Linked DNA regions of Homo sapiens. The protein of the gene in region 2 purifies or fractionates together with the protein of the main gene of each other region. This does not show direct contact. Each region holds a gene or a part of one and is shown on either strand. Other genes may lie near its edges. The genes, in order: TESK2, DCLK1, G3BP2, CDK5RAP2, KIF1C, RASAL2 and SIPA1L1.

Evidence for each region.
Region 1: the proteins of DCLK1 (region 2) and TESK2 purify together in Homo sapiens (affinity purification with mass spectrometry, with the first as the bait; one large-scale study listed by BioGRID). This does not show direct contact.
Region 3: the proteins of DCLK1 (region 2) and G3BP2 purify together in Homo sapiens (affinity purification with mass spectrometry; one large-scale study listed by BioGRID and IntAct). This does not show direct contact.
Region 4: the proteins of DCLK1 (region 2) and CDK5RAP2 purify together in Homo sapiens (co-immunoprecipitation; one large-scale study listed by IntAct). This does not show direct contact.
Region 5: the proteins of DCLK1 (region 2) and KIF1C purify together in Homo sapiens (affinity purification with mass spectrometry, with the first as the bait; one large-scale study listed by BioGRID). This does not show direct contact.
Region 6: the proteins of DCLK1 (region 2) and RASAL2 purify together in Homo sapiens (affinity purification with mass spectrometry, with the first as the bait; one large-scale study listed by BioGRID). This does not show direct contact.
Region 7: the proteins of DCLK1 (region 2) and SIPA1L1 purify together in Homo sapiens (affinity purification with mass spectrometry, with the first as the bait; one large-scale study listed by BioGRID). This does not show direct contact.

The regions. Positions count from the first base shown.
Region 1 is NC_000001.11:45,452,660-45,457,166, reverse strand, and holds part of TESK2 (dual specificity testis-specific protein kinase 2), read left to right. Parts: intron 1-4,507. UniProt on the Homo sapiens protein: Dual specificity protein kinase activity catalyzing autophosphorylation and phosphorylation of exogenous substrates on both serine/threonine and tyrosine residues. Phosphorylates cofilin at 'Ser-3'. May play an important role in spermatogenesis.
Region 2 is NC_000013.11:36,110,273-36,114,779, forward strand, and holds part of DCLK1 (serine/threonine-protein kinase DCLK1), read right to left. Parts: intron 1,944-4,507; coding exon 1,597-1,943; intron 1-1,596.
Region 3 is NC_000004.12:75,666,345-75,670,851, forward strand, and holds part of G3BP2 (ras GTPase-activating protein-binding protein 2), read right to left. Parts: intron 1-4,507.
Region 4 is NC_000009.12:120,569,684-120,574,190, reverse strand, and holds part of CDK5RAP2 (CDK5 regulatory subunit-associated protein 2), read left to right. Parts: intron 1-2,149; coding exon 2,150-2,217; intron 2,218-4,507. UniProt on the Homo sapiens protein: Potential regulator of CDK5 activity via its interaction with CDK5R1. Negative regulator of centriole disengagement (licensing) which maintains centriole engagement and cohesion. Involved in regulation of mitotic spindle orientation.
Region 5 is NC_000017.11:5,007,497-5,012,003, reverse strand, and holds part of KIF1C (kinesin-like protein KIF1C), read right to left. Parts: coding exon 4,462-4,507; intron 1-4,461. UniProt on the Homo sapiens protein: Motor required for the retrograde transport of Golgi vesicles to the endoplasmic reticulum. Has a microtubule plus end-directed motility.
Region 6 is NC_000001.11:178,453,579-178,458,085, reverse strand, and holds part of RASAL2 (ras GTPase-activating protein nGAP), read right to left. Parts: intron 3,640-4,507; coding exon 3,438-3,639; intron 1,387-3,437; coding exon of another isoform or gene 1,366-1,386; coding exon 1,187-1,365; intron 404-1,186; coding exon 1-403. UniProt on the Homo sapiens protein: Inhibitory regulator of the Ras-cyclic AMP pathway.
Region 7 is NC_000014.9:71,585,457-71,589,963, reverse strand, and holds part of SIPA1L1 (signal-induced proliferation-associated 1-like protein 1), read right to left. Parts: intron 3,667-4,507; exon of another isoform or gene 3,036-3,666; intron 2,394-3,035; 5' UTR 2,092-2,393; coding exon 594-2,091; intron 1-593.

The DNA.
Region 1 (4,507 bases), on a different chromosome or scaffold from region 2:
CACCCACATATATAGTTTTTGTTTGCTTATCTTCAGTAAAATTGATAGCTGGGTACAATGGCATGCACCTGTAGCCCGAGCTACTCAGGAGGCTCGCTTGAGGCTGTGAGTTTGAGAGCAGCCTGGGCAACATAGCAAGGCCCTGTCTCAAAAAATATGAGCCCATAATGCTCCTAAGCAATCATATTTCCCTGTTTCACTCACTCCCTCAAGAGAGTATTTTGTACCTTTTCTTCTCTCATCAAATCCCAGTATTTCCTCACTAGTCCTCATTGTCAGTAATTAATGAATTGCTTCCCAATTCACTGAGAAAATTGAAGCAAGCAGAAGAGAACTTCTGCAGACTTCCATTACTACAAATAGCTATCAACACACATCTTTACCCAGTTACTTGGCCTTTATACCTTGTACTATGGATCAACTACTCATGCTCCTAAGTCCATTATTTCTGTTTATATTGTACATTCCATTTCCACTTGCCTACTAATAGGCATTGCCTAAGAAATTCTCCCCTCTCTTTTCTACATTGTATTTTCACTACTAAGTATTACCATTAACATGTTAAAAAAATTCTTTTAAGGAAAAAAAAAACCCAAATATTTTGGCTCTGTTATTTCCCCTTTATTTTATTTTATTTTTATTTTTTTTGAGATGGAGTCTCACTCTGTTGCCCAGGCTGGGGTGCAGTGGCATAATCTTGGCTCACTGCAACCTCTGCTTCCCGGGTTCAAGCAATTCTCCTGCCTCAGCCTCCCTAGTAGCTGGGATTACAGGCGCCTGCCACCACACCTGGCTAATTTTTGTATTTTTAGTAGAGACAGAGTTTCACCATTTCGGCCAGGCTGGTCTTGAACTCCTGACCTCAAGTGATCCACCTACCTCAGCCTCCCAAAGTGCTGGGATTATAGGCATGAGCCACCGCGCCCAACCTATTTTATTCTATTATTTTATTTTATTTTATTTTATTTTTTGAGACAGGGTTTCGCTCTGTCACCCAGGCTAGAGTGCAGTGTGGTGTGATCATGGCTTACTGCAGTCTTGACCTCCCTGGACTCAGATGATCCCCCCACCTCAGCCTCCAGAGTAACTGGGACTACAGGTGCATGACACCATGCCCAGCTAATTTTTGTATTTTTTGGAGAGTTGGGGTTTCACCTTGTTGCCCAGGCTGTTCTTGAACTCCTGGGCTCAAGTGATCAGCCTGCCTCGGCCTCCCAAAGTGTTGGGATTACAGGTAAGAGCCACCACACCCAGCCCCTATTGTTTCTTTTATTAATAGGTATACTTTCCCATGTCTTGTTTTTTTTTGGACCAAAACAACTCCATAGAGTTGTCTCTATGTACCATTTCCAGCTTCTTTCTTTCTAATGTGTCTTTCTCTAAAATACTTTTTATTGCAGTAAAATATATATAACATAAATTTACCATCTTAGCCATTTTTTAAGTGTACAGTTCAGTGTCATTAATTACATTTACAATGTTGTACAACCATCTCCATTATCCTTTTCCAGAACTTTCTCATCACCTAAACAGAATCTCTGTACCCATGAAACGTTAACTCACTAATTCTCCCTTCTGTAACTGTAAATGGGTTCATTGCCCAATGCACACAGCAAGTCAATAAGCTGAGACTCCAGGTTGCAGCAGAGAAAGGTCTAATCATAGGGCCGCCAAATGAGGAGATGGAGGAAAACCTCAAATTCATCTCCCGTAAGAGATGGGGGCTAAGGTTTTTTAAGGGTTTTGAAGTGGGCCGAAGTGTGGCAATTGTTTATTTGTTAAAGAGTACAGGATGAAGTCATGGGACAGGGAGATGAAGAAGCTGTATTCTCTTGCAGATCCCGTTCCTCTGTGGGGGACTTCAAACTGGTTGCTGGAATTCAGGGGTCTGAAAAACATATTAAGCAATCCTTAAACAAAAGCCTTATGATTATAATGTCAGAGATCCTGTTATAGGAAAGATGGGGATAGAAATAAAATCTTAAAGTTTTATGACCCTAATGTCAGAAATCCTATTCTGTAGGAACAATAGGAATGCAAATAGTCAGTATCTAGTGCTATATGACTTTTAGCAACCAGGAAGTGGGCCAAAGTGCGGCCTGATTAATGCTTAATTATAACTATATTTCTGTCCAGAACCTGGCATGCACTTCTTGTGAACCCTGTGGGGGCAGTTTCACTCCCACCCACTAATATCTTCTACTTGCTGTTTTTATGAATTTGCTTATTCTAGGTACCTTATATAAGTGGGTTAATATAATATTTATCCATTTGTGTTAGAGTTAATTCACTTAGCATAGTGTTTTCAGGGTTATTCATGTTGTAGCATATATTAGAATTTCATTCCTTTTTATGGCTAATATTGCATTGTGTATATATGTCATATTTTATCTGTCGATGGTGGGGCTGTTTCCACCTTTTGGCTATTGTGACTAATGCTGCTATGGATATTGATATACAGGTATCTATTTGGTTCTTTGCTTGCAATTCTTTTGGGTATTTAGCTGTAAATAGAATTGCTGAGTCATATGAGTAATTCTATGTTTAAGAAAAGATTATGGTAAAATACATACAAAATTTACCATTTTGGCTGGGCATTGTGGTTGACGCCTGTAATCCCAGCACTTTGAGAGGCCAAGACGGGAGAATTGCCTGAGCCCAGGAGTTTGAGACCAGCCTGGGCAACATGACGAAACTCTGTCTCTGGGGGAAAAATAAAATAAAATAAAATAATAAAAAAATAAAAAATAAATCTTTTTCTTACTATCTTAACAGTATTTAATTATGTTAAGTACATACTTAACACAACTGTTAAGTATGTACACATGGTTGTGCCTCCAAACTCCAGAACTTTTTCATTTTGCAAAACTGAAACTCTGTACCCATTAAACAACTCCTCATTTCTCCATTCCCCCCAACCCCTGGCAACCACTATCCTACTTTATTTCTAAGAGTTTGACTACCCTAGATATCTTATGTAAGTGAAAACATACAGTATTTGTCTTTTTTTGACTGCCTTATTTCACTTAGTCAATCTATGTTTAACTTTTTGAGGACCCACCAGACTGTTTTCCGTAGTGGTTGTGCCATTTTACAGTTCTATCAGCAATATGTAAGGGTTCCAGTTTCTCCATGTGCTCACTGACACTTATTTTTCTTTTTCATGGTAATCATCCTATTTGGTGTGAAAAGTGGTATCTCATTGTGGTTTTGATTTGCATTTTTCTAAACAACTAGTGATATTGAGCATCTTTTCATGTACTTGTTGACCTTTTTTGTATATCTTCTTGGAGAAATGTGTATTTGAATCCTTTGCTCATTTTTGAATTGCATTGTATTTATATATTTTATATATAGGGAATATTTATCCCTTACCAGATATATGATTTGCAAATATTTTCTCACAATTTGTAGTTTGTCTTTTCACTCCCATGATGGTGTCCTTTTTTGCACAGAAATTTTAAATTCTGATTAAGTCAAATTAATTTTTTCTTTTGTTACCTTTTGCTTTTTGTGTCAATCCAAGGAATCATCACCAAATCCAATATCATGAAGATTTTCCACAATGTTTTCTTCTAAGAGTTTTATAGTTTTAGCTCTTACATTTAGGTTATTGATCATTTTAAGTTAATTTTTCAATATCGTATAAAGTAAGGGTCCAATTTCATTCTTTTGCTTGAGGATACCAAATTTTACAAGCACCATTTGTTGAAAAGACTGTCCTTTCCCCATTGAATGGTTTTGGCACCCTTCATGTCACAGTCAATTAACCATGTTAGAGAGGGTTTATCTCTCTCTCTCTCTTTTTTTTTTTTTTTTTTTTTTGAGACAGGGTCTCATTCTGTTACCTAGGCTGGAGTACAGTGGTGCTATCTCACTGCAGCCTTGACCTCCCAGACTCAAGTGATCCTCCCACTTCAGCCTCCCGAGTAGCTGGGACTACAGACACACAGCATCATACCTGGCTAATTTTTGTATTTTTTTTTGTAGAGTTGTGGTTTCACCATGTTAAGGCTGGTGTTGAACTCCTGGGCTCAGGTGATCAGCCTGCCTCTGCCTCCCAAAGTGCTGGGATTACAGGTGTGCACCACCATGTCCAGCCTCTTTTTTTTCTTTTCTTAGAGACAGGATCTCACTTTGTCATCCAGGCGGCAGTGCAGTGGCGTGATCATAGCTGACTGCATCCTCCTGGACTCAAGTGACTCTCCCATCCCAGCCTCCCAAGTAGCTGGGATTACAGGCATGTTACTGTCACGTCAGGTAATTTTAAAGTGTTTTGTACAGATGGAGTCTTGCTCTGTTGCCCAGGCTGATCTTGAATTTCTGGACTCAAATGATCCTCCTGCTTCAGTCTCCCAAAGTGCTGGCATTATAGGCATGAGCCACTGCACTCAGCTTTTTTTTTTTCTTCTTTTTTTGAGACAGGGTCTTGCTATGTTGCCCAGGCTTGTCTTGAACTCCTGGGCCTGGTCAGTCCTCCTGCACCTGCCTCCCAAAGTCCAAAATG
Region 2 (4,507 bases):
CCAGCATGAACTTTCTGGTCATTGATAGATTTACGACATTTAGGCTACAGACTCTTAAATATAGAAGACTAAGTCTCATTCATTAGAGAATCTCATCCATTAGAATCCTTATCCGCATATTACTTAGGGCAAGGGTTATAAGCCAAGCAAAAGATGGTAAATACAAATGAACAACTGGCACATATTCCTTCTTTCCTAATGAATTTTATAATTTAGAGCATCTGAATGGATCCCTAAGGGAAGTATTCTTTCATGACTAATACTCTTTCTAGGATTAGCATCTATTTCTAATTCAGAAAGTTTGAATGCGCTAGCCTTTAAGAACTTGGAGGAGTCTTCTATTTAATAAGATCAATCTTTTAATTCATGGATCATTTTAATTTTAATATTTACTATACATACAAATCATTCAAATTATCCCTCAAAAAAAATTTTTTAAAAAAGCATTTTGATAGCACCACATTAAAAACTAAACTTCCAGCAAAGATAGTGTGCTCAAAAGTATAATCTGGTAAACTCTGAATGACTAGCAAATCATGCTGTACATATAATCAATTTTTTTTTTTTTTTTTTTTTGAGACGGAATCTTGTTCTGTCACCCAGGCTGGAGTGCAGTGGTGCGATCTCGGCTCACTGCAAGCTCCGCCTCCCGGGTTCACGCCATTCTCCTGCCTCAGCCCCCTGAGTAGCTGGGACTACAGGCGCCCACCACCACACCCAGGTAATTTTTTTTTTTTATTTTGAGTAGAGACGGGGTTTCACCCTGTTAGCCAGGATGGTCTCGATCTCCTGACCTCGTGATCCGCCTGCCTCGGCCTCCCAAAGTGCTGGGATTACAGGCGTGAGCCACCGTGCCCGGCCCTAATCAATGTTTTTTAATTCAACTCACCATCAAGGTTCTGTCAAACCTGTACAAAAATAGTCCACCCAAGACAATAAAAGGTGATGCTTCCTTTGGGTTCATCTGACCAACTCACATTAAAATGACCACCCATCCAAGTCAACTGATGTTCATTCTGTAGCTGAAAAACCTCCCTTTCATTTTAACACTGAAAAATACAAGATGCGTACTATTCTAGAAATATGCCTTTAAAGCTATCCAGATGGAAATATGTCATTTCTTAGATACATATTTTAAAATCTATAAAATGTAAGTAAATCTCACTAGCGAACACTACAAAGACTTAAAATCATAAAATATTTAGGTCAAAGAAATAAGTTAGAATTTTCCCTACTGGTCAGAGTTTACTTTCACACCTCAGTCATTCATTCTTCAGGCTATAAGATCTATGAGAAAACTGAAAACAGATGACAGAAAAGAATCATTATGTTAAGCAAATAATAAATGAACAAGTAGAAATCACTGAGTAATTATTTAATCTTCAAAGATATGCATTTTTTTCTTACTTTATTCCTATGAATAATCCTGCTCAACTCAAACTTCTGACTGTTCTAGGGCCAGCAAGTACATATTTGTTGATCAAGTGACCCAGGCCCTTTAACAACTTGAGCAAAATGTATGCTTTAGCCACGTACACCCTCCGACTCCCTGGTTCTTGCCTTAAAGTCAAAGTCACATCACAATATGTCTCTTACCTGTTTCCCATCCAACGTGTACAGGCGTTTCACCACTCCCGAGTCCAGCTTGATGGCATCGGTGATATCGGTGAGGACCTGCTCAAAGGAATGAGCCGTTTTCTTGTTCAGCAGAATCCTGACAGCTTTCCGTGGCTTCACGCCACTTCTGATGATGGTGACCAGCTTGGGCCGAATGAAATCCTTATTCTCTCGCACCTCTGAAGGGCTTCCTTTGGCAGTGGCCAGTGAAGACACTGCCCGAGAAGCCGAGGTGGTCTTGACGTTCACCGACCAGTTGGGGTTCACATTCTTGGTGTACTCCAGTTTCTTGAAGGGCTCTATGGAGCCACATACATAACTCTCTCCTAAGGAAGAGAGAAATATATTTAAATTTATACTAAAATATGCCCATTTCTTTTTTCCTACTTATCCTCTCTTTTGCCTTTTCTGCTTAGGGGCAAGAGCTAGCCCTGACTTTTCAAACAATGGAAGTGTGATTAATAATTAGGGAAAAAGAAAGATTTCTGATTGCTAATCTGGCACTGTCAGCAACAGATCCACATCCTGGAAAAACAAAACAAAACATTATTCCTCCATTTCCTCATCTTAAGGTCGGTGATAGAAATGCTGATCTACTTGAAAAGACCTTAGAGAAGTGTGAAAGTGAATTTAAAATAGAAAATATTCTTTGGGAATTAGAGATACTTAAATCTGCAGAAAATTTCAAAATTGGAAGTACCTCCATTTGCTACCTGAGATAATTTAAACACTAAGAATGAATCAGAATACAGCATCTTAAAATAGTCATATAATTTACGAATTTGATGAGAGTTGATGCTAAAGATTTTGTAAAGCCCAGTAAAGTTCCAAAAGCAAGCAAATAATCACCCTTCCTTTCTCTCATCTATATAGTGCCAATCACAGTGATCCACACATACTATAAGGTCAATTCATACTTGTTCATAAGTAAGAGGTTTTAGAAGTGTTCAACATACAAACTACAGCTTCAAAAATGGGCTCTAAAATAAATATAAGTAAATGTTTATTAAAAGTGACTCCTTAGCAGGAAATCTTTTAATGAAAATAATCAGACTATTAAGTAGATGTAGATCACACACACAAAAAAGAAAAACATGAACCAAGAGACAACAAATTGTAAAATGACGAATTCTAAATACATATTTCATAAAGTTAGGTCAAAGCCTTTTGAAATTAAAGATTTTGTAATGGCTTTTTTTCTGTGTTAATAAGTTTTTGTAACTAGGAATAGGTAAAAATGCTGAAAGACCTTCATAATTGTAGGTAAAATGACCGAGGCCTAATCTAACACAGCCCATTGACTTTTATCTAAGTCCTTGTATTATTTTTAAATTCACAGTGCAAGCATCCAAGGCCAAAGAATAAGTAGTCACATAAAAATAACTGAAGCAGGCCTTCAAAAGTTAAAAAGAGCAGTTATACATGTTACTGAACACTTGTTTTGCAGATGTTCTTAAAATATTCTCTAATGTGTATACATACACATTATGCCTCACTAGAAGTTGTATGAATAGTGCAAGTTTAACCAACCCCATTTCTATTCACCTGGCAGATCATGACTTGTCTCAGCTATGCCTTCCTCAGGATTTAAGTAAATATCAAAAACTTATATGTATTTTTGATATTTTCTTAAATCCTGAGAAAGGCATATTTGGGTACTATAGAAACAGCAGTGTTTTGGGAGTTTTCATGGAGTGATGACCTGCACATGATAGTGGGAAGAGAGAACTGGAAATTCGGGCTCAAGACCTGGCCTCTCCAAGCATGTGACTTTGGACAAGTCCCTCAGATTTCTGGGTGGTAGTTTATTTATCTATAAAACAAAACCTCATTAGGTTTTTCTGAAGATCAAATTAGAAGATAGAGATCAAAGTGATCTCAAATACAAACCTGCTATGTGAGTGAAAATGACCTGAGGCTACATACCCTAATCGTGCAGTAAGCCTGAAAGAAAAATTCAAAAACAAAATTACTAGAAATCGGTAAGCAGGTCTTATATTGAACAGTTACCAGTGGACACCACGTTGGGTCCATGTCAATGTGAGAATGCCCTAACACTCCCCAGTGAGACACACAGCATGTAACTGAGCTGGCAAAGCTAGCCTCTGTCAGAATTCTGTGCTAACTGAAGATATGCAATTGTCTGATTATTTATAAGTTTCTATACTAAGCTAATAACTAAAAGCAAAACAAAGATACAGAGAGCAGTTTACATTTCAACAAAAACTTTAAAAATATATTAAATTAGAAGAGGGAGCAGTTTTAAAGAACATAGCAACATGGAGTGAGTTTGTTAAAAGAGAAAATAAACACTTTTTAAAAATATCTTCTTAGATAAAGCACCCTGAAAATGTTTAAAAGCATAAGAAAGTTCTCCAGTTACACTGAGAAGGCGTTGCTGGTTTGGTTCAAGCAACAATGATCAGAAGAAATATGTGTTTAATCTGAGCTGTAAATGTGAGGCTCCTCTGCTGGATAATCAGATTTAAAGACTGGAATGAGAATCTTAGAGAAGGATGTGAGACTCCAGTAACAGATGATACTGTGCTAACAGGAAAGCAACAGCTAAAGGAAGGAGAAGGAGCTGCCACCAAATCCAAGATCACACACCACAGTCATTTAGAGTCTGTGACACTATTCAGGAATTCAGGAAAGGCCCAGATGGATTTCCTTATGCTAATAAATTTCCATTGATTTCCTTATGCTAATACATTTCCATTTTATCATGAAAAGAAATTTCCATTAAATCTTTTTAAATCTATGTATTAACTATTTTTACAGTAATCATAACACTGAACTTCTCTCTGCCACAAGAGATGTGGTTCCCGCCTTAATGCAGTTAAATTAAAGTTGGTTGTATTTTCTGATTTTGTAAAAAATAGCTTTTCAA
Region 3 (4,507 bases), on a different chromosome or scaffold from region 2:
TAATCTGGTAAAATCTAAACAGGCATATAACAGGTTATATAGAAAGCTGAGCTTTTAAGGTGCAGAGGAGGCTCCCAAAGGAATGGTAAAACAAAATCAAGATTTACTGAGAGAACAGTGTTTCAACTAATTACATCAGTTACTTCTTTAACCATAACTCCGATTTGAAGTGACTCAGAATTTAGAGAGCCAAAATATAATTGATAGAAATCAACCAGAAAATGACTACTAGAGATCAACCATCAAACAACGTGGTTTGGGTATTGCAGGAAATAAGACTATGAAAATTGAGTAAGTAATATAAAGTTCGTATTTATAATTCATGCAGTGTACGTAAGAAGGTTGAGAAAAAGGAAAAAAGCCAAATTACACTTTCAGAATAAAAGTGATTACAAGAAGAAAGAATTGTGCCATTTTTATTATTCATAGCAAATCATCTTACAGGTAATCCATTTCTAGATCTGGGACCTTCCATTTCTTAAAAAAAGTTAACAAAACGAAACAAAATTCTGAATATGGGAGTAAAAGGTTTCAACTATCTTATCCATGGCCATGAAAAACTCATGACCTTACTGGATCTCGATTTCCTAGTTTACAAATTGAGAAGAAATCCCCGGTCAAGCCTACAAGACTATACAGTTCTACAAAGATAGCCAAGAAGGCCTGGTGCAGTGGCTCACACCTGTAATCCCAATATTTTGGGAGGCCAAAGTGGGTGAATCGCTTGAGCTCAGGTGTTTGAGACCAGCCCAGGCAACATGGCAAAACCCCGTCTCTACTAAAAAATACAAAAAATTAGCGGGGCGTGGTAGTGTGCAAGCGTAGCTCCAGCTACTCGGGAAGCTGAGGTGGGAGGAATGCCTGAGCCCGGGAAGTCAAGGCTGCAGCGAGCCAAGATGGCACCACCGCACTCAAACCTGGGTAACAGGAGTGAGACACTGTTTAAAAAAAAAAAAAAAAAGATAGCCAAGATTAAAGGATACTTATACACAAAAAGAAATCTTTAGAAAGTTCTTAGATTAGCACCTTCAAAGATAACTACCATCTTCAATAAGGTGGTTGTTAGCCTCACCTAACAACCTTTTTAGAAAAAGTTAAATACAATATATCACACTCCACTTCTTCCAATGACACCTGAAAATGTGAAGAATCTCACACAGGAATGCACAGTGTAAAATTTTATCTGATACATTAGCTCTATACACAGTCAAAGCTCTCTCATGAACAAATCCGTCTTTTACTTGTCAAATGAAAACATTATCCAAGGCCAGGCGCAGTGGCTCATGCCTACTTCCCAGCACTTTGGGAGGCAATGGCAGGAGGATCACAAGGTCAGGAGATCGAGACCATCCTGGCTAACACAGTGAAAGCCCGTCTCTACTAAAAATACAAAAAATTAGCCAGGCCTGGTGGTACGCGCCTATAGTCCCAGCTACTCAGGAGGCTAAGGCAGCAGAATTGCTTGAACTCAGAGGCAAAGGTTGCAGTAAGCTGAGATCACACCCTTGCACTTCAGCCTGGGCAACAAGAGCGAAACTCTGTCTCAAAAAACAAAAAACCGAAAACATTATCCAGTATAGTTTAGAGGCTTTTTACTCTCCAACTCTGCCTATCGCACCTAAAATCCCAGTGAATCTTCATCAGAATATTTTATTCATTCCTGTTTCTTAAAATGTTTCCTCTGCATTTGCCTAATTCCTGAAGCACATGCACTTCAGCTCTCACGGAAAATTGCTCTATATTTGTCACCATATTTTCTGAATCTATTAATTATACACATTGAGAGAGAGTGGAGTATTGGTAGATAATACACACTGAGAGGGAGTGGAGCATTGGTAGACATACATGCAGATTAGAAAAGAAAGTCACATTGAGCTTCATTATCCTACAATGAACTTATATTTCCTCAGTTTCAAAATAACGTAAAAACCAAAGTTATCACTCTCCTTTCCTCAAACTTTGACTAAAACGTCACCTTTTAGGTAAGAAACATTTAGGTTTTTTGTTTACCATTTAAAGTTCAGTGAATCACTACTATAATGGGGCTGCCTCCAAAACAATCAATCTTAGGCTACATTAATTTAGATGTAATATCTAAAATGAGTTGATTGCTAATTGAATATAGTGAATGGAAATTATAAGAAGGTAGATTTGGGTGAAACATAACACAAGAATAACGCGAGTTGTCCAAATATCAAATAGAGCTACTTAACAAGTAGCCAGTCACTACAGGTATTCCAGAGACTAACTGAATGGTTTGGCACAAACATAGTAGAGTCCATACATCCAAAAAAGTAAGATTAGGCCATTCCAACACTAAGATCCTAAAAGTCTGTTAACAAGAAGCAGGACTTTTGACTTCTCCTCCAATACTCATCTCACACCTTCCTATCTGCAATGATTGAAACCCTATGCATTTATCTGGGCCCAGCAGAAATCCTGTCCCCTTGAAAATCTTTCTACTCCTACTGAATTCCTCAACAGAATATAACTCTTCTCTATTAACTCTTAAAGCACTTTTGGCCTTTATCATAGCAGTTTATTGATCATGCTCTGCCCTAAATTACTAACTGTACACCTGTCTTCATCTTCTATTCCCCTCTCAAATATTATAACTCAGCTCTCCTTTGAATGCAATTCTCTGGAAACATCACAATTCTTCTCAATAATCGAATGACTTCTCAATCCTCCACCCATCTGCATTATCAATGTTGACTACCTCCTCCTAACTCTTCTAGAGTTCTATAAGGCAAATTTTCCTTCTCATCCAAACGCAGAATTTCTCAAGGTTCTGTCTTCTAACCTGGCAATTTCAGCTTCTGGTCTCATGTCTACCTAAACGTGTATCTAGTCTATACCATAAGTTCAAATTTTACATTTGTCACCACATACTGAACACCTAGACATGACCCACATATGTCCCAATACACGCATGCACCAAAGAAAGCTATTTCCTTATTTCTGTTAAAAGTGTCATAATCTTCTCAACTTGAAAGCTCAGTCGTGACTTTCTCCCCTTTAGCTTTGCCACTTAAACTGTGAAATCCTTACAATTCAGAAGGTGGAATTTGTGCCCTCCTTTTCACTCCCACTGTTCAGACCTTTTATTCTTCAAAAGTCTTTCAAGCCCCTGTATCACGTGTAGTATATACTGTACTGAGTAAAATCCAAACACCTGCATTCAGTTTGGCATCTAAGGCCCTACACAGAAATCCAGTCTGACATTCAATGTCATAACCAACCTTTCAAATTTATCTCCTACTATACTTTCTCATCCCTGTATCAAATTCTATACAAATATTTTAATCACCTAATATTATTCTCTGCAATTTCACTCTCTGCGCCTTTGTCTTACTTCATTCATTCCCATCCACAAGCTGAGTCAATGGGTTATACAAAATAAATTCATTTCAACATTTATTTTATGGCTACTATGTATGTACCAGAAACTACAAAAGGAAAAAGAGGCCGGGTGCAGTGGCTCACGCCTGTAATTCTAGCACTTCGGGAGGCCGAGATGGGTGGATCACCTGAGGTCAGGAGTTCGAGACCAGCCTGACCAACATGGCAAAACCCATCTCTACTAAAAACACAAAAAAGTTAGCCGTGTGCAGTGGCGGGCGCCTGTAATCCCAGCTACTCAGGAGGCTGAAGCAGGAGAATCGCTTGAACCCGGGGGCGGAGGTTGCAGTGAGCTGAGTTGTAAGTACTTGGTATTAGTTATTATAAAAAGAATAAGACCTCTAGTAATAGGAGGCAGTTCTCTTTACCAGATACTGTTACCAAAGGTTATGTGGGTGCTAAGACACAGCTTATCTCCACTATAGGATACTTACCCCTTTCCCCTCTGGAGTCCCTCACTCATAGCTGGGCTCAAACTAGTCAGGTTTATTTATTTTAATTGAACCATGGACTATATCCATTTCCAACAGCTAAATGCATATTAATACTGGAACTTTCTGAAATTCCAGATGGTTTTTGTTTGAAGTAACTTAAACAATCTAAGGAACACTATACCTTTTTAAAGAAATGACCTTCAATCTTTTGTGGTACACCATTGAATGAAAGCTTCACAAAGAAGATCTAAGAATCATAGTGGTACAAATAAATAATAAAAGTAAGTTATGGATTAAATCTCTTATTCAGGCTCCAAAAGGTGTTTTTGTTTTCTGTCCTTCTCAGAAGTTGAGGGAGGCTAGTTTTAAAATTCAGAAGCTATTAAAAGTGACCAAGCAGTAAGAAATGGAAATGCTTGCTGTCCACAAAAATAAAGCATGTATTTATACTATGTTTTAAAGTTTAACAAGTAACCTACTATTTTCTTTTGTCTTTAAAATAGATAGGGCATTATCTTCATTTACAGAAAAGGATGTTTAGAGAGCCTAAGGAAAGGTGTTTGGGGTTCCTCAGTTACAGTAAAAAGAAAGAGGATTTGAAATCAGGTCTCCTGACTCCTGACTCAACTGATGTTTTCATTACACTTTGGTTAGGAACAACCGCTTTGGAA
Region 4 (4,507 bases), on a different chromosome or scaffold from region 2:
TTTCTGCATTACATAGTGGTTTTGTCTAAGAGTTGGGATGTCAGATGTCATTTTTCAAACTTCAGTGTTTGCCTGTAGGAAGCTTGTCTAAGACCAGAATCTTTGGCTTTGTTTGCTAGGTACTTTTCAGCTGTGATTGATCTTGGCTTGAGTTATTCATGGGCAGTTTTAGCCAGTGGGAGTTAATGTAATGGCTCTGGTACCCGGAGAGAACCCCAGATTGAGAATGCAGGACCAGACCTTAGGCTGAGCTTGGCCAATAACCTGGTGTATGTGACCTTGGGCTTCTGGACCACCATCTGCAAAAGGTGATGGTTGAACTTGATTTTAGTTTTTAAAATTCAGTTTAGAAAATTGACTTTGTCCTTTTAGTGATGTTTATTGGAGGAAATTGAGAATTATATAACATTAAAAAGGAAGAAAACCTCTCATTTCCCTACTAATGATGATTTTTAATATTTCAGTATATTTCCTTTGTCTTGTTATATATCTGTAGCCCACCTATTTCCAAAATGGACTTGAGGTGACTTCAGTATTTATGTACTGTATATATTTGTTTTCATAATTGAGGACATATTCTGTTTACGTTTTTTCATTTACCTTTACAGGGGACACTTTTTTTTTTAAATTTTTTTTTTTTTTGAGATGGAGTCTCACTCTATCACCCAGGCTTGAGTGCAGTGGCATGATCTCAGCTCACTTCAACCTCTGCCTCCTGGGTTCAAGTGATTCTCCTGCCTCAGCCTCTCAAGTAGCTAGGACTACAGGCACCTGCCACAATGCCCGGCTAATTTTTGTATTTTTATTAGAGATGGGGTTTTACCATGTTGGCCAGGCTGGTCTCGAACTCCTGATCTCAAGTGATGCACCAGCCTTGGCCTCCCAAAATACTGGGATTATAGGCATGAGTCACTGCACCCAGCCCGGACACATTTTTTTGTGATCATTTTCTTAATGTTGGAATTTTATGATATTTCCAATTTTTTGCCTGTTTTTGATCTTGAAGGTACATTCCAACTCCAAAGTTTGGTGGTCAGGCAAAATTATCCTAGGAGCACAATGAATTTGGATTTAGAGGCATGGAAAGAGCAAATTGCCAAGAAGTCAAGCTGTTTCCATCAACTCCTACTTTACAGTGTGGGATAGGGAAGTATTCGTGGGAGTTGGACATAAAAGACCTGGCTTCTGGACCTGGCTCTCCACAGAACCGCCATGTGACCCTGGCTAGGACAGTAAAATTGTCTGGGCCTTGGGGCCTTCCTTTGAAAAATGTGTGCACCCTCAGGGAATTAGGCAATTCTAATGATGGTAAATCTTTTATAAATTGTAAAGCACTGTAGGTTTCAAGGCGACATGATATTTTGCTCCCATTTGTGGAGTACCCACAAGGTACCTTGCAATATCTTGTTTAATTGCCAGTTACTCTGTGAGGTAGCTGCTGTACTCATTTTACAGCTAAAGAAAGTGAGGCTCAGAGAGATACATGGCAGAGCTTAGAATAGATCAGGGTAGTGTCTTTTGTGTCACACCACACCTCCTATTATGGGTTAGTTTTCTGTCAGTGTCTCCAGATCCTCACTGAATTTATTTATGTAATTCAACCAAGACAACTTCTTGGATCAGTGAATTTTGCATTGTTTGACATTCTTAAAACATCTAAATTGGTGTCTGATTCCCAGAGGTGGTGATAGGCATATTAGTAGTCATAATGATAATAGTAACAACAACAATAGTTGCCGTTTACTGAATACTTACTATGTGCTTTGTGTTTATATACATGAACGAATTTAATTTTTACAGGGAGGGCATGGTATCCTCATGTACCAGATTAAGAGGGTGAGACTCAGAAACATAAGTATCTTGTACTTGTCACAGTGCCTCTGCCACTAGCACATATTTGGCACACAGAACATTTGATGTATGACTGAATGAATGATGTTACTGAAGGTCACTCAGCTATCAAGTGTTGGAGCTGGAACTCAGCCCCAAAGCCTGAGTTCTTAACCTCTGTGCTTCATGCCACATAGGTAGCCCAGCTGTGTGCATCCCTCCTGGCCATGGGATGATTGTCATGTGCAGTCCAGACCGTCTTAACAGTCTCTGTTGTTCAAACATTAGCTCATCTCTTATCTCATGTGTTCTCTCCTAGTGGCCTTGTTCCCAGTGTACCAGATGACCTGGATGGCATCAACCCCAATGCTGGGTTGGGAAATGGTCGTAAGTACACAAAACCAGGCATTCTCTTGAGTAAAGAACAAGGAAAGTAGACATTGGACTGTGAGCATCTTGAGCTTTCATATCTCTGGGGCCCAGAGGCTTCCCTGAACTGGCACACCGTAGGTGCTCAGTATTTTTTGTATGTATTGATTTGCTTTCCACCTCCTTTCATAAACACTGGACTAGAGGAATTGTTGTCCTTTTGGCCATACTTCATGAGTTTCATTTGTTGCTACTAAAGCTATAGGGATTCAGTGAGCGTTTGCTGAACTGAACAACTGCACGGAGGCTGGACATTGAATTGGCAGCTAGGCCAGTGGCTGGAGGCCCAGGAGAGCTGCCATCTGGACTGTAGCGTGCCAAGGCCTTCCTGGCAGGCTGCTGGATCCTGTTTGCCGGCTGAGGCCCCGCATTCCTACACGGGCCTGCCCTTTGGAGACAAATAGCTGGTTAGACCACAGGAGACGGCTCTGAGTAAATAAGTAGCGTACTGTGTTTAAGCTGGATTATGAGGAGACTTTGCAGTTTGGGTCTAGCTAAGCATTCTTCATAATTTTTATTTCTGAAAAAAGTGAATGCTTAAGCGTCTCTGTGGGTAGTGCTAGTTTTTGCAAAATATCTCTAAGATATTTTGACTTGTTCTTTTTTTTCTCTTCTCCACAGTGCTGAGATATGTGCAAGAGGAGGGAGATTTTGGAGCAGACAGGAAAAGAGTCCCACGGTTTATTTCTGGAAAATCCCTTAACTTACAGGGCACCTTCATGTTTTCCTGAGGAACCTATTAACTTTTACTTTATTTTTACTTTTTATTTTTTTGAGACATGGTCTTGTCCTGTCACCCAGGCTGGGAGTGCAGAGGTGCGATCACGCACACTGCAGCCTTGACCTCTTGGACTCAAGCAATTCTCCATCTCAGTCTCCCTAGTATCTGGGACTACAGGCGTGTGCCACGACACCTGGCTAATTTTTGTATTTTTTGCAGGACGGTTTTGCCATGTTGCCCAGTCTGGTCTCGAATTCCTGGACTCAAGTGATCCACCTGCCTCAGCTTCCCGAAGTGCTGGGATTACAGGCATGAGCCACTGCACTCATTGGCAACTTTTACTTTAAATGCAAAATCCAACAAGTCTGATTTGAGATGGAGTCTCGCTCTGTTGCCCAGGCTGGAGTGCAGTGGTGTGATCTCGGCTCACTGCAACCTCCGCCTCGTGGGTTCAAGCAATTCTTCTGCCTCAGCCTCCCGAGTAGCTGGGATTACAGGCACGTGCCACCACACCCAGCTAATTTTTGTATTTTTAGTAGAGACAGAGTTCACCATGTTGGCCAGGCTGGTCTCGAACTTCTGACCTCAGGTGATCCACCCGCCGCAGCCTCCCAAAGTGCTGGGTTTACAGGCATGAGCCACTGTGCCTGGCCAGCCTATTTCTTAATTTAGCCGATAGTATACATTTGCTTCATGCCAGACTCTGGGCTCAGTGCTAAAATTCAACCTCAAATGTGGTTACTGTTAAGCTGAGAAGACAGACAAACCCTTATGAGAATTTGTATGGTCAGTGTCAGGAGCAAAGATGTATCAAGTGCTGTGAGAGGGGATTAAAGGGAGATTTCCTCTGGTGTGGAGGTGGGTCAGGCTAGAGTTTCCCAAGAAATTGATATTGGAGCGGAGACCTGAATAAGTCAGATGTAGGTAAGGAAAAAGGAGGGGATGAGCATCCCAGACACAGGTGAGGGCATGGCCCGTTTGAGGAACAGGAAAACAAACTAGCGTGCCCTTCACAGTCTGCCCTGCCCACTCCTTAGCCTCTTTTCTGCTAAGTGGTTTCCGAACACCATGCCCACTCCCACCTCTGTGCTTTTGCCTGGGCTGTCTCTCCTTCCTTTTGTTTCTCATCTGCCCGGTGCCTCCTTGCTCCCTCTTTAAGACTCAGCTCAAAGCTCACCACCCTTTTTGGCTCTCCCCAGGCTGACTAAGGTGTACTTTCCTCTCTCAACATTGTGTATTTCACTTCATCTCATCTCATTTCATTTATTCCTGTTGGCTACTTTTAAAGTATCGGAATCAGACTAGTTCTCACCCACCTATACTCCTTCCATCCTACTCCAACCCACCATGATCTGCGGCCTAGATTATCCCAATATTCTCCTAACTGGTTTCCCTGTTTCTCTCCTAAGCCCCTTACAGTCTGTTCTCAGAAAGGCAGCCAGAGGGAGCCTGTAGAAACCTAAGTCGAATCATCTTACTCCTTAGCTGCAAACCTTCCAGCAGCTCCTCAGAGTCCTTAGAAGAGCC
Region 5 (4,507 bases), on a different chromosome or scaffold from region 2:
TGTGTTCTGGGAGGGACTCACATGCAAAGAGGAACAAAGTGAAGAACTATGGGATTTCAAGGGGATCAGGAGGACTTAATGGAAGGGTAACATGGGAGCCAGCCTTTGAGGACAAGGAGGGCGTGGACATGCACAAGAGCGCTCCGGGTGAAAGCAGCCTGGACAGAAGCATGGAGGCAGAAAGCACAGGGTACAGAAGGGAAACAGCACGGAGTCGAACCTCTATTTCTCTGGGAGCCACTTAACACTCAGAGCCCAAAGCTGTGTCCCCCAGAGGTGTCTGTGTATCTTGTGCATCCGCCCTTCACCCAAGTGCTCCAAGGATCACTCCTGCGACACTTCTCCTGAGGGACTCCCATGCCCCTCCCTACACTGCAGTGTCAGGCCTGCTCTGGGACTGGCAAACGCTGATGGGCTCCGGAAGCAGAAAGCAATCTATCCCTGGGGAGAGGGAACACGATTTGAGGCGGTGCTTTTCAACTTTTTCTTCAGCCCTATAACTCTTTGTTCAAAATGAAACCTTCTCTAGAAGCCTAGGACATCAAGCAGATAAGCAAGAAGCTGCTCAGGCCCAGGCTGGGGGTGAGAGCCCCAGGGTCTGGTCCTGTCCCTATCCTCAGCCCCTGAGAAGGCAGCTCAGAACCAGGTTTGAACACCACTGATTTAAGCAATCCTTAGCCCTGGTGGTGGGGGTCTTAGCAAGAGGAGGCTCCCTCCAAGACAAACTGTAGTTTTTTCCTCTAAGACCCAACTATTCCCTGTTGGAGCTACTCACACCAAACCCATTTCCCCATGAGTCTAACAGTTCTCTCTTCTGGCTTTAGACCACATGGCTTTTAAACATGAGAAGAGTTCATCCTCACCACCTTGAGAAAAATGTAAAAGTGAACTACCTTAAGACACCTTCTCACCAATCACACAGGCAAAGAGAAAAGTCTTACTAAGCCAGAATGTGGGAAAGGGCGAGGGGAAATGGGCTCTCTTGTATGTTACCCTTGGGAGTATAAATTGGTATGGTTCAAAAAATTAGCCAGGAGTGGTGGTGGGCGCCTGTAGTCCCAGCTACTTGGGAGGCTGAGGCAGGAGAATGGCGTGAACCCGGGAGGCGGAGCTTGCAGTGGGCCGAGATTGCACCACTGCACTCCAGCCTGGGCAACACAGCAAGACTCCATCTCAAAAAAGTAAAATAAATTGGTATGGTTATAATCTTCAGAGGGCACTTTGGCAATATAGATTAAAAAAAAAATTTTTTTTTTTGAGACGGAGTCTCGCTCTGTCACCTGGGCTGGAGTGCAGTGGCATGATCTCGGCTCACTGCAAGCTCCGCCTCCCGGGTTCACGCCATTCTCCTGCCTCAGCCTCCCAAGTAGCTGGGACTACAGGTGCCCGCCACCACGCCCGGCTAATTTTTTCTATTTTAGTAGAGATGGGGTTTCACCTTGTTAGCCAGGATGGTCTCGATCTCCTGACCTCGTGATCCGCCCGCCTCGGCCTCCCAAAGTGCTGGGATTACAGGCGTGAGCCACCGCACCCGGCCTAGATTAAAATTTTACATGGCTACCATTTGACCCAAAATCTCCATTTCTAGGAATCTGCTCTACAGATAACACCCATTTGTAAGACTATGCATTGTAGCCTTTTTTTGTAGTATCAAGGAATGGGAAACAATCTGAATGTCCATCAGTGGGAAGCTGGTTAAATACATTATCCTACATCTACACAATAGAATACCCTGACACCGTGAAAAAAATAAAGGAAGCTTTAAAATAAGGTATGCAGGCCAAGCACAGTAGCTCACACCTGTAATACCAGCACTTCAGGAGGCCAAGGCCAGTGCATCATTTGAGGCCAGGAGTTTGAGACCAGCCTGGCCAACATGGCGAAACCCTGTCTCTACTAAAATACAAAAATTAGCCCGGCGTGGTGGTGGGTGCCTGTAATCCCAGCTACTTGGGAGGCTGAGGCATGAGAATCACTTGAACCTGGGAGGCAGAGTTTGCACTGAGCTGAGATTGTGCCACTGCACTCCAGCCTGGGCGACAGAGTGTGACTCTTGTCTCAAAATAAATAAATAAAATAGATATGCAACTACAACTATTAGAGAGGCCGTGAATGTGAGTAAATGTGTATAGTTCTATATAACATATGCCTGTACATGTGTTATAACATCTCCTAGACAGCATCTCTAGGAGAACATTTTTTCTTTTTTTTTTTTTTGAGACAGAGTCTTGTCTGTCACCCAGGCTGGAGTGCAGTGGTGCGATCTCAGCTCACTGCAACCTCTGCCTCCCGGGTTCATGTCATTCTACTGCCTCAGCCTCCCTAGTAGCTGGGACTACAGGCGCCCGCCAGCACACGTGGCTAATTTTTTGTATTTGTAGTAGAGACGGGGTTTCACTGTGTTAGCCAGGATGGTCTCAATCTCCTGACCTCGTGATCCACCCGCCTTGGCCTCCCAAAGTGCTAGGATTACAGGTGTGAGCCACCAGGCCCGACCCAAGGAGAATATAGTAAGAACCCATAATGGGCCTGGCACGGTGGCTCACACCTGTAACCCCAGCACTTTGGGACTCCGAAGTGGGTGGATCACGAGGTCAGAAGTTCAAGACCACTCCGGCCAACATAGTGAACCCCATCTCTACTAAAAATACAAAATATTAGCCGGGTGTGATGGTGTGCGCCTGTAATCCCAGCTACTTGGGAGGCTGAGGCAGAAGAATCGTATGAACCCAGGAGGCGGAGGTTGCAGTCAGCCAAGATTGCACCGTTGCACTCCAGCCCGGGTGACAGTACAAGACCCCGTCTCAAAAAAAAAAAGAACTCATAATGAAGGCTGCCTCTGAGGGGAAACTTAAGGGTGGGAAGGATGGAGAGTTACTTTTTTTTTTTTTCTATAACAAAATGCTGTAAATTGGAGACTTTTCACTGTACACACCTTTTAGAACTATTAGAATGTTCTCTCTGGTGTGTATTACCTTTATAAGAACAATTAAAACAAGAACCCCCTCCTTTGGTCCCCAGGCTTTGGCAGGTGGCATCTCTGCAAGCTCTCCAAGGAAGAAACCTCCACCCCACCAGTCTCCCCAGTCCTTTCTGCTTTTCCTCCATCCTTGCAACCGTGGTGGAAGCGGCCCAGCTCCAGGTATACAAAGGTGGCTGGAAGCCATGCTGAGCGCATCCGTAGCCCCTCTTTCCACCTAGGTGTGGCTGGGTCCCAGAAGAGTCTGGATCCCTCAGAAGGACCCCAAAGCCCCAGGGTACCCAGCCCCAGACAAGACCCCAGACACGCAGCCTGGCCTACCGCCCACAGCTCTTTCACTCCCTCAATGTGGCTTGGGCCAGGCAAGGCAAAACCCCTCTCCTCTTTTCAGAACAGGGGTTCAGTGATCCCTGCTTGCTTAGTCCCCCAGATGGACCTGACTTTACAAAACAGAGAGGAGCCTTCTTCTGGTAACCCATCACCTCTTCCAGGCAGCCCCCAGTGACACTGTCTGGCTCAGAGCACAGTGTATCTGACTTAGGGCCTGATCCTCTGCTGCTTCACACCATGGTCCAGACGGGCTGGGCTGGTTCCCTGGTGGAACTGGAAGTTCATGCTCTGCTCAAACTGGCCTCTGCACCATCCCTTCACTGGTATACTGGCCTCTGCACCATCCCTTCACTGGTATGCACCGGTACAGCGGTGCTGGCTGTCTATATCCAGTGTCCTTTCTGACTGGTCAGTCCCTATGCCGGATGGTTATTAATATTTGGAGTATCATTCCTGCCTCCACCTGAGCCTGACCTCTCCCGCCCTGCTCCTTCCTTCCTTTCAGCAAAGATTTATTAGGTACCTAAAACCTGGCGGCAGGCACGTGTCAGGCACTGGCGTGTCCCACTCACCCCAACATGTACCCCAGGCTCTTCAACCTCATGTTGGCCCTACTCCTCCATACTTCCCAAGTCCTGTCCATCTTTCAGGTTCCACTTTCCAAACCACCTTCTCCAGGAAACCAGTTGCAGCATAGCTCCAAGCTACACGGGTGCCTCCATCTATAACCAACCCCTCGCTGCACTGGCAACCACTGTCTTACAATGTAGTGCTCATGCCTCCTCTATTCCCTTTAGTCTTGTCTTCCCAAGTTATCCTTCTGAAAAATAGATTTCTTTAGTTATCTTTTTGAGCATGCACAGAATACAAAACTCAAATGATACAAAAGCATGCTCTATTGCAACCAACCTCCGATTTCCCAGGTCCTCTCCCTCTCCTGAGGCTGACTGTTGAATGGCTGAAGGGAGAAGGCAGGGATGACTAAACAAGACGGAGAGGAGGTGGCAGGGGAGGGGACAGAAATGATGGAGGGACAAGCCGGGGACCTCAAAGGGAGCGATCAGGGACAGCACTCACTACCCTGCACCTGCTGCCTCTTTTCTAGGCATCCAGAGAGCTCTCTAGGCCTCCTCGCTCGATTCCTCACTCACCTTCTTTGGAGAGAAGACGCCCACAGTTCCCCCATCCTCCCGGACG
Region 6 (4,507 bases), on a different chromosome or scaffold from region 2:
GTTATTGAGGTGATAGACAGGGTTCTGGAACGACAAGGGCTGAAGGCCACCTGGCTGGTTCAAGGCTGGGTGCAGGGGCCTTCTCACTTGGGGTGCACTTTGGGGAGTGCTCTGGGTTTCCCGCAGCTGTTTGATGCTGGCCACCTGGGTTATGGAAAGCTGGCTTCCGGTCAAGCGTATAGGCACATCAAGCATGACAGATGCATGCTCCACTTGAGCAGCATGAGTGTCCTGGAGGTCCATGAGGGAGACGCTCCGACCATTAGGAAGGCTACTTTCCCTTTCATCCTTTTCAGAATAAGTCATGCTCTGAGAGGAGGCTTGCTGAACCAGCAATAATGTTTTCCCTCTGAAGTAGCTGTCTGTGTTGTCCTGGCTTGGAGATTTTAGTTTATGCAAATCACTGTGGAAAAGGAAAGGACACTTAATTTCTCTTGAGACAACTTCAACATGGCTAAGATGCCTCAATTCAGGCATATGAACTCCTCCGAAGGTTCTTATGTGGATACGTACATTTCTTTGGAAACTCAGATTTTATCTAATTAGGGAATTATTACAATGCTTAGAATAAAATCCAGCATTTTTACTTTTTCCCCAAAGGTACAGAATAACACTGTAGATACCAACCCATCACTGTCTTCAGTTTTAACCAGGATTCCAATAATTTCCTAGTTAGGTTTTAAACCTTCCCCAAATATTCCAATTCATACTTACTTGTCTAAACCTTCAAGAGAAGAAGTTCTAAGCACACAACTGAAAGGTCCCTGCAAAAGGCACAAGTCTTGCCAATCCCTAAAACAGTCTAAGCATCGACATTGTATCTACCTGTCCAGTTGACATAGCCAGCTATAAAATGGTTTTAACCGAGGTTCTCCAAGATTTTGAATGCTATAACGTACAGAAACATGAATTTCATAAAGCCTTTAGTCTTCCACTAAGCAAGACAGAAATTTTAAAAATATGCTTGTGGAATATATTGTAACTCTCTATACTACCATTCTAGAAAATAAGTCATCCCAGATCTTGTGCATTATTATGACAAATAATTGGACTGCTCTCAGGTCAGATGAGTCTTCAGTTGCTCATGATTTTAAACTTGTAAATTCAACAAATAGGTTGAATATACTTCTGCTAAATCTAAACATTATGTTTCTCCGAGATAGTGGTCAAATTCTCTCTTTCATACCTGTCAGTGGGGTCTTCAAATATTTTCTGCAGCCCAGAGGAGAGGCTTCCACTGACATTTGGACTGGAGTTATGTTCAGTGAAGCGTCTCAGTTGCTGTTGTATTGGCGTAGGATTAGTCAATGACTTGGTAATATCAGCAAGAACACGAGGGAGAGGCCCCAATTTTGCCACGGTCGCCTGTAGGAAGGAATTTTCACCCTAATTGGATAATAAGCATTGCGACATCCACCACAGATTGTTTTTGGCACAACGATGGCCATTGATGGAGGGGTGTAGGTTGGAGGGAAGGGTAAGTGTTTGCATATGGGAGTGGCAGGTTCATAATGCATTGTTATGGAGCAGCAGAACCATGGCGTCGAGATGAATGGAGGAGGCGAAACAAGGTGCGGCAGACATCGAGGAAAGAAAGGAAATCGAAATCAGGATTATGCAAGTAAAAATTAAAAGACATGCTCAAAACTACCAAACTAATGCCATTCCAACTAAAATAGGCATGCGAAGCAAACTAAATCTTTGGGAGGCTAGTAGATCAAGGTGGGGGAGGGTGGAGGCAGAACCAAATTCCTTCTAACCAAAAGAACTTCAAGATCAGAGGATCAACTAGTATGATAAACTTTCAAAGAAAAGGGATCATGTGAGAAAAGAAATGCATGCCAACATATAAGAAGGTGCTCATTCAGGAATCCAGAGTACTGCAGGGCACACAGATGATACTGCCATCCACTATCCCAGTCAATCTTGGGAACCCTGACCCACTGCCAACTGAGTTTCCATCAGTAAGACAATTTTTATTGTTAATTTAACAGCAAAATCAGGTAAACTTCCTCTATGAGATATGTCTAGATGTATTCCTGGTTCCCAGGACCAAACACAGATTAAAAAGGAGAAAGTGTGTTTACATAGCAAAGCCCGTTAAAAAGACTTTGATCCTGAATAAACCAGGCCCATTTCACAGGAAAACTGAATCTGCATTCCACTGAGATGCAGTTATTCAACAAAGACGAACTCTTTAATACTTGCTTTATCCATTTCAATCATTTTTTTATTTAGGGAATTCTTATTCTCATGGGGTCTTAGGGGTCCCCTTCAACTGTCAGTCAGTTTGGCATAGCTGCCTTTGGGTCTTTGCCTTCTCAACAATCAACAGACTCTTCTACCCTACTCAAACAGGGATAGATGCCACCAAGGCCTTTACTTGCTCAATAATGTTGGGCTACGATTCACATGAAAAGGGTTTATCTTTGGCATAGCTGCAACTTAAAAATCTAGCTAGCATTTCTAAAAGTGAAGAAAAGGTCCTCGAGAATAAGGAACAGTTTATTGTTTTACAAATATTTTAAGCACTGGAGGACACATTACCACATATGTTTCCTCAGCAAAGTGGTCTTTGTTAATAGGTTTTATTCCCCTTCAAATTTTACTGATATAGCATTTTTATTGATAGGAAAATAGAGGAAAATAAGTAGATCATTATCATAGAAAAATGACTGTCTTTTGAAGTTATTCTAACATACCACCACACATATTTATAAAGTGCCTGTAGCAAACAAAAACATCAATAAATAATTATTGTAATAAGCCTAGCCAACGTCTTTTAGACTATTTTTTACTACCAAATCTATTCCTTTTTGTTAAATTCCAGAAGGAAGAAAATGATTGGCATGGTGTATATTTACTTATTAATACGGTATATAATAAAATTCTTAGCAAACGATTAAAAATAATTGCTTTCTGTATTCTTAATTCACATCTGTAAAGAAAGAAAACAATGACTGTTAGCACTAATAATTATATGAAACTCTATGACTTGTATAGTAAAAAAATTTGTTTCATGGGTAGTTACTTAAAACATGATAAACCTAGTATTTTCTTAGCTAAATCTATACTTTTATTAGAAATTACTATATGAGGTTTCATCTTATCCTATTAGACATGCATAAGGCTGTATATACCAATATATTAGTTTCTAGTCAAGTTTTCAGATATGCACTCTGTATATATAAATTTAGAGAAATATACTCCATTAATTCAGATAATTATTAAAAACATATATTAATAATGTCATGGTTTTCTAGAGTTTCATGGTTGTCGATCTCATATTTTACTCAGAAATGATGACCATTTACTCTCAGATTTCTAGGGTAAACAGTTGCTTTCAATTAGCAGAAAGAGTGAGTGCTATCACTCTATAGTTACTTTCCAGAATTCAGGTACATTAAAGTTCTCTATCTTCCACCAACCTACTTTACCTTATCAAGTTGGGAAACTACTTCCCACAGTAAGGAATGCAAAACTGAAAGCTCTCGGCCCAGATCAATGTAACCATCAAAGCCTGGGGTGTTTGAGATGGTGTCTGGATTAGAGATCTCCAAAAGAAAGCGCTTCATTCCACCCCATTCATGTTCTAAAAAATCATTCATGAATGCCATGTATTCCTCTTTGTTACCAAACCTGAAGTAGAGGATGAGAAAATGAGAAAGAACATATTCAAGAGAGATATGATCATTTTGATTTGACATTACACAGAACTATTACTTTTTTTTATTTTGTGGAGGGAATGACTAATTTTGTTTATTATCTATAAGTGATAAATGTTATAACATACTTTCTTAATATCACTTTAATATTCTAATGCTTTGAGAATAGCTTTCTATTCTCTCTAAAGGGTAAAGCCAAAACTCCTTTTTTTTTTTTTTTTTTTAGTTCTGGGATTTAAATTTCTCTGCAATATAGCCCTCACTTACCTACCAAAAGCTCACCAGTACAAACCTTCAATACTGCTAGCTTCTACAAAGTCTCCCAAATATATTACACATTTTTTTCTTCTCCAAGCTTTTGCCCATGCTATTTACTTGCACTAGAGAAAAACTTCTCTCCTTTGCCTATCTAGATTCTAGCTATCTGCAGGGCCTAGTTTAAGTCCATAAAACCTGTTCCAAAATAAAATATAAATATTTTTAGCTCAAATATCGATAAATATGTATATTTCTGCATTGGCTTATATATAAATTATACAAAATTAAAATAGTACACCTCTAAAAAGCCACCACTTATACTAGAAAACAATCTGTTCACTGAAGTTCCAATTTTTTTCTTCAATACATTGCTAACAGAAACTTGTCTTTAAGCATCAATACTGAGTAAATCTGTGGTCAGTTCTGTAAATGTGAATTCCTTCCCAGCCATTTCTTAAATTTATTTTCTATAAATTATAAAAATATCATAAACTTACTGAAAAAAGTTTGAAACAATGAAAAGTAGAAAGAAAAAAGTGTGGATGTATCATTCAAGCTACCCAAATATATCTGCTGTTTATATT
Region 7 (4,507 bases), on a different chromosome or scaffold from region 2:
TCTCTTCAGTGCCTTTTCTACTCAAAGACCGAGATTTGATTCTTGGCACTGAGACTTATTGGCTCTGTGACTTTTGTCAAATAATGTAATTTGTTTTCACAATACTTCCTGTAAATGGACAGGAATATATTATAATTACCACCTACTGATGACAACATTGAAGCAGCAAAGAAATGATTCCTGTACTTACTGTGGAAGTGATAAAAAATGAAAGTAGCATTAAAACTGTTTTGCAATCCTTAAACAACAGCTATATTTCAAATATTTTCAACTTGGTATATTTATCCCTAAAGGTGACACAGCAAATCTACTGTACAACAAAGACTATAATTTCAATCGCTAAGTCAAAGGGGCTTTTTATTTGTAAAAGTACTATTTAACATACAAGACATTTATATATCTGAAAGGAGAAAGTAACTCAAAAAATGCAAAAAGAAATAAATTGAGCAAATGGTTATTTAGCTATTTTACCATCAAGAAAGATAAGACATGCAAATCTTATGTCACATTGTTAATAAATATCTTAATATACAGTACTTTTCTTCAGAAAGTACTGCAAAAGAAAATGTAAGAAATAAAGGATCTCTACTTACCCTTCTGGTAGAAAAATTTTCTATAATAGTATGCACCCAGATCTACGTGTTCCACGATGTATCTTTTCACTCTATCTAGGTGCAACACCAAGTTCTCCTTGGGCACTTCAAGTACTGCCACTCCTGCATTTGTGCAATGGGAACTAAGGGTAGACTCAAAGGAGGCACTTTCACATCCACTAAAGGAGCCAGAATTTGATTTTGAAAGGCTGATTTTCCTCTCCCCTTCTCCACCTATCTCATTCCGAAAATATGGACAGCTCATTACAAGCTCATTGCTTTTATCATCTCCCTGGTCCATGCTGAGGCTTCCTTTGGAATTCAGGTCCTCTGTGCTGCCCATTGGGGAGCTAAAACTGGCTGAATGAGACAGAGGTCCAGAGACCAAGGATGCCACGGCAGCTGCGGAAGCTCCAGTGGTGGTGTTTCTCCTCTTAATAACATTGTGCCTGTTCATAATTGCCTCATTCAAATCAAATAATATACTCTGGACATCATAGTGGGCAAAGCACTTTGGACATGTCCAGGGCCTGACAGAGTCTTCTGATCGGTTATCTTCAAGATCTGATGACTTCCCAAGTTCTTCACCTTTGGCATTGCGCAATTTACGAAAAATAGATGAGTCTCCAGTTTCAGATTTTGAACGTCGCTTGAGTGGTTTTTCCCTTTCCTTAAAAAGCCTGAGGTTCTCTCTCTGTGAGATAGGCCCGTCTATTACATCCAAAGAGAAACCAGAACCCTTGCCACCACCAGTAATGAGAAAGTCACTGAGCTTGGTTGGAGTTGGACCTCGATCAGATTTGTCATCTTTGTAGCCCTTTAACAAATCAAAAAAGCTTTCTCCAGATGTTCCCTGTTTATCAATTGAAGATGTGCTACCATATTCCCTGTGCAGTGATGGTCCAGTCTTGTATGTAGGTGAGATACATTCATCAAAGCTATCCACATCAAGTTCACTTATGGTGATATCACTGTTGCTTCGCTGGCGTATTCTGCGAAGAGCTTTTCTGGGGGAGCTGGGGTAGGCTTCAGGCATGAGAAATCTGGAGTCCATGTTCTCCGACGGTCTTGTCTTGTTTTTCAGCGTGTTCTGTATGCTTTTCAGCATGGCTGAGTCATTGGAATTGAGGCTAACAGAACTTCCCTGACTCACAGGACTGCTTTTGGAGGACAGGCTATCAAGGCAACTTGAGGTTTCTATTTCCTGGCTTGAACGGCTAGATTCTTTTATGTTTTCCTTTCTTGGGGGCCAATCTGCAATCCTTGCCCTTACCCCCATTTTTGGGACTCCGGGGGTTGAGGTTATATGGTGAGAACCTTCACTTCGGGGGGGTCCTACAGGAGCCATAACTGATGATCCTAAGCTGCCATTTTGGGACCGGAAGCGCCGCATGTAGAAATCATCAGTGTGGACTTTGGGGGTGCCGTCTGTGCCAACAACAGAGGCCCTGTCAGTGGCAAGAGGCCTTTCTGTCTGTGACCGTTTCAAGCTGGTCATGATGTAAAAGCAAGTAGACTTAAATCCCTGCAGCAAGGACCATCATATCTGTGTTTTAAATGTGCACTTCCCTTTTGGAGAATGGCTTCCAGAAAATACAACAGTTGCATGAGATCTTAATCTTTTTCATTTAAAAGGTTAAATGATGCTTTATTTGTAAAGCACTGAAAAATTGGAACTTCTAAACGTTATAATCCACAACAGTTTCTTTGCTTCACTTTAACAGAGGGCTTTCTTTCAGAAAAAACTGAATGGAACTTGTACTACTGAGATTCTGTGGTTGCCATAATCCCATGCTTTCTCTAAAAGAGAAAAGGATAATTTGAATTAGCAGATAAATACATCTAAAAACAAACATGCAATTGTCAAAACCAGACACATGAAGATAAAAGACTCAATAATGGATTAGGATTCACAGTTCCACAATCCGTATTTTTAGTAAAGCAGGTTTGAAAGAAAGGAAGAAAGTAAAAACCATTTGATAAAATCCATAATTTATATTCTAAAAAAAAAAACTATTAAGACTTCATCTTAATTGAACTGTTTCATAAAATGGGGGGCAGGGGGAGGGGTACATCTTGTTCTGGATATCATGGCTCCTACCCAAAGTACAGACTTTTGCTCCAATGACCTCTAAAAATGTAGAACATCATGAGCTACTGTGATGACCAGAAGTTTGAGATGTAACCAAGTGAATAAGATAATTAGAGCAACAGAGTTTTTTGACAAAAGTAAAAACTGAAAAATGACTTTACTGAATATGCTGCAACAATCACTTTTTAACTCCTCTATTCCAAAATCAATACATGTTTTTTGTTTCCTTACAAAGGCTTAACATAGTTGGCAAAAACAAATACAGCAGGAAAAAATAAATAAAAAGAGTTTTCCCAGAGCCATTATATCCATTAGCACTCTTTTGTATTTTCCTCTACTTTATTACTTACCGAGACGAGGATATTGCAGAATGAATCCAGCATTCACCACCACCTCTTCCCAAGCTCTCCTTAGTTTCTTGTACTCTTAAAAGCTAGAAGTATCTCACTAATGAACAAAATGCCTGCATTTCCTCATGCAGTACAACCTACTCCACCCCATCAGTGCTAATTTATGAAGACGGCAGAAACAAAACACAGCTCTGGGTGGCCCTCTCCATATCCCCAACAGATTACAGAGAACTGTTAGCATCCTTCCAGGTGACGGGCATGGAAACAAACTTCCTCATGAGCACGTCAGGCAGAAGGCAGGAGACACAGATTCTGAGTACAAAATTCTGCATGGTTGCGTACATTCTGAAAAGAAAGGCAGAGGCTCCTTTTCCAAGACTCCACAAATTACACAAGAGGTGGCCTTTAAATTCTTGCCAAATACATGTTTGGAAAGATGCTGCTGAACCAGCACTGAGCTGACAGGGCGGCATTGTCTACAAATCACGGCTCTGACACCGGAGGACGACCTGCACTTGCTGCACTCTCCACTCAATGGTAACAAGCACCTACTTCCACGATAATTAAGCATCTCCCTAGTCGGCTTCCTGCCTCCAAGGCAGGCGCTTTCATTTCTCTTGCAGCACACAGCATCACTTTAGAAGACTCGCTGCTATTTAAAGGCTGGAACATGTAGGGGTGTTTCAAAAAAAAAAAAAAAAAATGCATGCTGCCTGCAGAATGCAGGGTGAGGCGAGCTCTGGCTGGGCTCGTGCTGGCTGAGTCTGTGGAGCCATTCAGATAAATGCCATTTGTTTTCACTAGCACTCCTCTTCACCATCTTTTGTAAAAGGGATAATAGTTTTGCACTGCTACCTAATTAAACATGGCTTTTGAGCTTTCTAGATACTTCTACTGTCAGACTGCTATTATTCCCTTTACATTCCAGAACTTTACATGTTCCTCTTTCAATGATAACCCTTCAAGTGACAAAACATGCTAACTGTTGCTTCCGAGGATATCAAAGGACAGCATATATGGCCATAGCAAAGGTTCAAGAAGTGATTCTCATAAAATGGAAGGAAAATTGAACAACTGAACCAAAATGCAAACACCTGTTCAACATCTCCCCAAAAGCTGATTATTTCAATGAATACTCTACATAGCATAAATAATACTTCTAAAGTAGATTTTATAAAAATTAGATGCTTTCAACATTTCTCACAACCTCACAGAAATCCAAATAAATCATCTTTCATTCCCCAAACATTCATTCTCTAAAAGGACAACACACCAATCCCACCATGATAAAAACTCTTGCCACATTTCATGTGCCTTAGAAAATACTTTACTGCACAGCTGTCTTTCCCAGGATATGTGAAGTTATTTCCATTAGAGGAGGAAACTAAAAGCTGGCAGTAAAATACAAGAAATAAAACTGACTTGGAAATGCTCAGTCTCCACCATCAGTATTTCTCTTCCAAACCATCTCA